2 separate regions of the Homo sapiens genome follow, and region 1 is linked to region 2. Evidence: fine-mapped expression QTL. A gene starts in region 2. The other region holds a variant in brackets. All regions are shown on one strand. Distances are between the middles of the regions.

The links. PIP is the estimated chance that this variant, and not a neighbour inherited with it, causes the effect.
Region 1: its variant is the best candidate, but not a certain one, in a credible set for the expression of WDR48 in monocytes (Kim-Hellmuth 2017, PIP 0.61).

Annotation. Positions count from the first base shown.
Region 1 is chr3:39,084,656-39,087,678 of GRCh38, reverse strand. WDR48 (WD repeat domain 48) reads right to left here. Exons shown (of 19, transcript NM_020839.4): 13 at 2,938-3,023; 14 at 2,069-2,164. Among named protein-coding and RNA genes, the nearest start is that of GORASP1, 21 kb to the left of the region's middle. RefSeq lists an enhancer at 1,229-1,288. The variant G/AATATAG (reference allele first, on the strand shown) is at 1,825.
Region 2 is chr3:39,050,949-39,053,448 of GRCh38, reverse strand. It overlaps WDR48 (WD repeat domain 48), which reads right to left and starts at 1,433. Exons shown (of 19, transcript NM_020839.4): 1 at 1,376-1,433. The coding sequence starts at 1,423. SCN11A (sodium voltage-gated channel alpha subunit 11) reads left to right here and starts at 1,505. Exons shown (of 30, transcript NM_001349253.2): 1 at 1,505-1,588. RefSeq lists a silencer at 1,230-1,329 and enhancers at 1,370-1,559, 1,580-1,629, 1,640-1,729, 1,400-2,272.

The DNA.
Region 1 (3,023 bases), 34 kb before region 2:
GTCCACAATTTTGCTTTTATTGTTCTCTGCAGATTTCCTTTCCACTGTTGTTTTTTCTTTGAGACGGGGTCTCATTCTGTTGCCCAGGCTGGAGTGCAGTGGTGTGATCACAGATCATTGCGGCCTCAACCTCCCCTGGCTCAAGTGATCCTCCCACCTCAGCCTCCTGAGTAGCTGGAACTATAGGCACACACCACCACAACTGGCTAATTGTTTACATTTCTTGTAGGGACAGGATCTTGCTATATCGCCCAGCATGGTTTCAAACTCCTGGGTTCAAGGCTGCTGGGCAGGGCAGCCTAAACATAAGCCATCAAGTAGTAAATGACCCAACAAGCACAGACGTCAAAATCACTGTCAACAAATATTAGAGGCCTCCCAAAGCACTGGGATTACAGGTGTGAGCCATCACGCCTAGCTCCATTCTGCTTTCTTCATAAACTTTTGACCCAGCACAGGTGGGTGATACCAACTCAAGTGCCAATTCATTCATGACACTTTCCTCATCAAACTGGAAGCATCTGACCCCCTGAAATCCTATAGCATTTGTGGAACCTCTCTCCTAGCACCCTTCTATCTCAGAATGCTTTCCATAAGTAACTCTCTGCCATACCAGAACATCAGCTCCTGAAGGACAGGGACCATACCCATGTGTCTTTAGTACCCCCACCTGAAACTTGGTAAGGGCCCCTGAATAGTAGAGCTGCTCACCAAGCACCATCTGAACAACTCCAGAGTGTCCACTGAGTATGCTGCAGGTGCTGTGGTCTGAGCTCTGGATGAGGAAGTAGCCATGCCCTGCCCTACCTTTCCCATGCAGTCTGATGTTAAGGATGACGTGATTTCTGGTGATGTCTTCCTTATACTCCTCACCCAAAGCCTAGATCCAAAGGGTGCATGACTATACCACTGTTTTGATAACTTAATCCTTATTGCTTATTTGGGTGGCTGAGAGTATCCCATCTAACTGGAAATGATTTGCCCACAGCAACATAGCTGTTAAGCAGCAGAGCCCACCCCAGAACCTAGCTTTCTTGACCCTCTGTGGAAAGATTTTTCCATCAGTTTCTTTAGCTCAAAGTCCACTGTACAATTCTGACAGGGATCAAAGTGTGTCAGGTGATGTAAAAGAAAAGCCACCATGGGTGGGGCAACAGCACCCTCTCTCTGACAGGAACATCAGAAGACTGGTTTTCAAGGAAGCATGTCATCCTCATGTGAGAGATTTAAATTCCACATATCATTATGGGTGAATCTGACAGCCAGAACAAAGTCCCTGGCAGGAGGTACTCGCCATTGTTGCTCACTCCTGGTGGCCAGCAGAGAATCTTCAGCAGAGTAAGCCTCAGTCGATGGGACTCAATGATTCCTCAACCAGCTGTAGGTTACACATGAGGATGTGAAATTCTAAGTTCTTGTTTCCCCTTCCTTTGATCAAACTGAGCCAAATGCATATATTCAAAACATGTTCTCCTCTGCTGCTCAGGGAACGTTACTGCCACTGCCTATGGCACACACACGTTTCAGATGTCCTCAGTGACATTAATTCTTTACACATGCTTGAGCATATGCCCTGTCACTTCTGAGTTGGAATTTGAATTTTTTTTTGAAACAGAGTCAAAATCAGGTAGGCCATGAGACTAGGAAATACCAACATTTCAGCCCAACATGAAGAGTGACTATGCAATGACAAACCTGGCTTTCTGATGCAGCTAACTACCTAGCTTTGGAGGTTAATCCAAAAGATCAGAGGTACCTTGAAGAATATTTTGGAAATAAGTCTGTTAAGGTGCCTCATTTTAAGACAAAAGTCATCTGAATATA[G/AATATAG]AGTATTTTATTTATCTTGAGCAGTCTCACTAAAAGCCATATCATAAGGTGGTCTGCTCTTTTGGAATCTCAGTCTCAGTTAAGACTGGATGGATGTTCCTACTTTGAGATATGGAAGAGAGGACAATAAACTGAGTACACCACAAATATTTTAGCTAACGGTTTAAGTAAGTACCTTTTAGTAAGTACCTTTTAAGTAAGTACCTCTAACTTTTTATGCAACTATCTGAATATAAAAACTAACCATGGTTTACTTCATTTTCCTCTTCATCCATTGGATTCACATGTGTTCTAGGCCAATATTCCAGGAGTGCTTGGAGTAAAAGTCCTCCTAAATTCACTGCAAAAAAGTTAATTAAAAAGAGATAAAATGGAAAAGCGAGTTACTTGGCTTTAACCTAAAAATAGAATAAAAATTGTAAGTTTGTACATATTCTGATGTTACATTCTTAACCCAATGCGAATGATGTCTAAAATAAAGACTTTAGTCATTTTGCCAATTCTGCTAAAATTTTATCTTAGAATGTTTAAAGCAATGATGCTATGGAGCAAAGACATATTCTACTTGGTTGTTCAGATACAGCTATTATTTAAAAACAAACATGAGAATCAGATTTTTTTTTTTTTTGAGATAGAGTCTCGCTCTGTCACCCAGGCTGGAGCGCAGTGGTGCAATCTCGGCTCACTGCAAGCTCCGCCTCCCGGGTTCACGCCATTCTCCTGCCTCAGCCTCCCGAATAGCTGGGACTACAGGCACCCGCCACCACGCCCGGCTAATTTTTTGTATTTTTAGTAGAGACGGGGTTTCACCGTGTTAGCCAGGATGGTCTCGATCCCCTGACCTCGTGATCCACCCGCCTCGGCCTCCCAAAGTGCTGAGATTACAGGTGTGAGCCACTGCGCCTGGCCGAGAATCAGATTCTTTAAACGGCTATTTCCATATGAAATTACTAAAATGATTTGTATACATTAGGTATTTGTACATACCACATTTTTAGGACATAGTCAACAAAATATAGAGAACTTTTACAAAGATAAGTACTTAGCAAAAAACAGCTCATATTCATCTTCTCTTTAGAAGGGAGGAAAAAAATGAAGGACACTTAAACTCACATTTTGGATCTGACCCATCAGGGCTGCTGAAACCAGCATCTTTTGCAGAAACCCAGGCAGCAAAACAATCACTTTCATCCAAAGTA
Region 2 (2,500 bases):
TATTAATTTCACTCATTTCAACAAACATCCAGTGAGTGCTTAAGACACTGTACTGATCAGTGAGATCAATAAAACCAAGATGTGAACTAATCAGAAGACTTTATGGCCTACCACCTTCTGCTGGGATTACCTTACTGAAGGACCCCTTCATCTAACTACCTTTATCTGACACTTGATTTCAACCCGCAGAACTCCATATAATGCTGTGTTTTATAAAGAAAGCCTAGGTGTTAATTATTTCTACACCCTTTCAATCCCTTTTCCCCTTTGGGGGCCACCCTAAGTGCTAGGTAAATGTTTAATGAATAAATGCACCAAACTGCCACTACCACATACAATATACCTGCAGGCAAACACCTGTAAGAGGGCTTTTATTCCCTGCATCACTGAAAATATTAAGTGGCAATAACTATTTTTTAATATTATTATTATACTTTAAGTTCTAGGATATATGTGCACAACGTGCAGGTTTGTTACATAGGTATACGTGTGCCATGCTGGTTTGCTGTACCCATCAACTCGTCATTTACATTAGGTATTTCTCCTAATGCTATCCCTCCCCTAGCGCCCCCAGCCCCCGACAGGCCCCGGTGTGTGATGTTCCCCGAAGTGGCAGTAACTCTTAAGCGTAACCGCAAACAAAAGTGAATTCACAAAGGCATAAGGCACAAGACACACACGGTAAGATTAGACAACTCTTTACCACATGGACAATAAATTACACAAACAATAAAGACAGATTCAGCGATGCACACTTAAGATGAAGAAATGGTGAAGAGGAACTTAAATACCAAAACAATTAAAATTATAATTTCCCCACGCACATTCTTATGTCACTTAAACCTACCCAGGGGACAGCTCCCACATAAGAGAGGGCTGGGGGCTCCCAAGTGCGGAATCCTCAGCAGAAACCCCGCAGGGCCGTTGGCGCTCCGCCGCCTCGCCACGCCCCCGCACAAGCCGCTCACTCCTCCAACGCCCACCCCCCTGGGAAACCCCTGGAGGCCTCGGCTCCGACGCAGCGAGGGCAGAGCGCTTCGAAGAAAGACAGGGCAAGGGGGAGGCAAGTGGGCGGGGAACGAGCCTATCCCGACCCCGCAAGTCCACTCCTACAGAAGAGCGGCGACAAGCAATCCCGGGCTCAGAATGCCGCCCACGAGGGTCCCGGGCCTGGGCCCCAAGGGCCAAGCAAGCCGACCCCCGCCCCTTCCTCAAGCCGTTAGCGCCGCGGCCCCACCCCTCGTGGCCGGCCGCGCCCCGCCCCGTTCGCCCCATGCCGCTACCCCAGCTGGTCGTGGCGCCGGGCACCTTCTAGCTGGAGTGGGCCCGGAGCTGCCGGCCGCGTCCGGAAGACCGAGGAACCGGGCTTCCATACCTGCACTTTCCTCCGCCCTGCTGTGTTCTGCCGGTGATGGGCCGCCATCTTGCATGTTGACACTCCGACGTCACTTCCGGAGGTGGCTCAGAGCGGGAGGATGTCCTGCCCCTTTCCCTTTGGCCAAGGGTTAGTGGCGGGGCTGAAGGTAAACAGGCTGTTGTGTTTCCTCGGTGCTGTTAGTTGCTGTGTGGCCGGTAGCCATGTGATGAGGTAGATGCACCTAAAAACAAAACCACTGTGCAAGTATAATGCTGATGGGGAGAGAGCCACTTTTCAGGGCTGAGGGAGCAACACGAATTCACTTGTGTGGTCCTAGACCCTGGCTTGCGCTCTTTTCCGCGCCCTCCCCGAGAGGCCCAAGCAAAACGAAAGCACTGAAAGAATTAACAGTGCTAGACATGGCGCTGGACCATCTCCTGACCTTTCCTAGGCAGGCAGGAGAACCAAGTGAACCAAGTGATTTACTGTTAAGTACCTAAAAATGCGGAGAATTATGTCGTGGCCTCAAAGGGGGAGAGATAGAAGTCCTTGCAAAGGAGGTGGCCTCCATCTTCAGGGGGAGCAAAGAATCCGTTTAAATTAAAAGGATAAAAAGTGGGGCCATAAAAGAACGAGATCATGTCCTTTGTAGGGACATGATGGAGCTGGAGGCCCTTATCCTTAAGCAAACTAACAAAGGAACAGAAAACCAAATACCGCACGTTCTCACTTATAAGTGGGAGCTAAATGATGAGAACACATGGACACAAAAGAGGGGGACAACACACACTGGGGCCTTTCGGAGGGTGGAGGGTGGGAGGAGGGCGAGGATCAGGAAAAATAACTAATGGGTACTAGGCTTAATACCTGGGTGACAAAATAGCCTGTACAACAAACACCCGTGACACAAGTTTACCTATATAACAAACCTGCACTTGTACCCCTGAACTTAAAAGTTTAAAAAAAAAAAACAAGACAAAAAGATGTTATAGGAAGGCGAAAACGGTACACCAGCTAAAATTGTTCCCAGAGACAATTCTAGTTTAAATCATCTCTTATACTGGAACAGTTAGGTTTGACTTAAGGTGGTTTTCCTGACCACTAATTATAAGAGCTGAGGGTGATCAGACCCTCTCTAGTGAA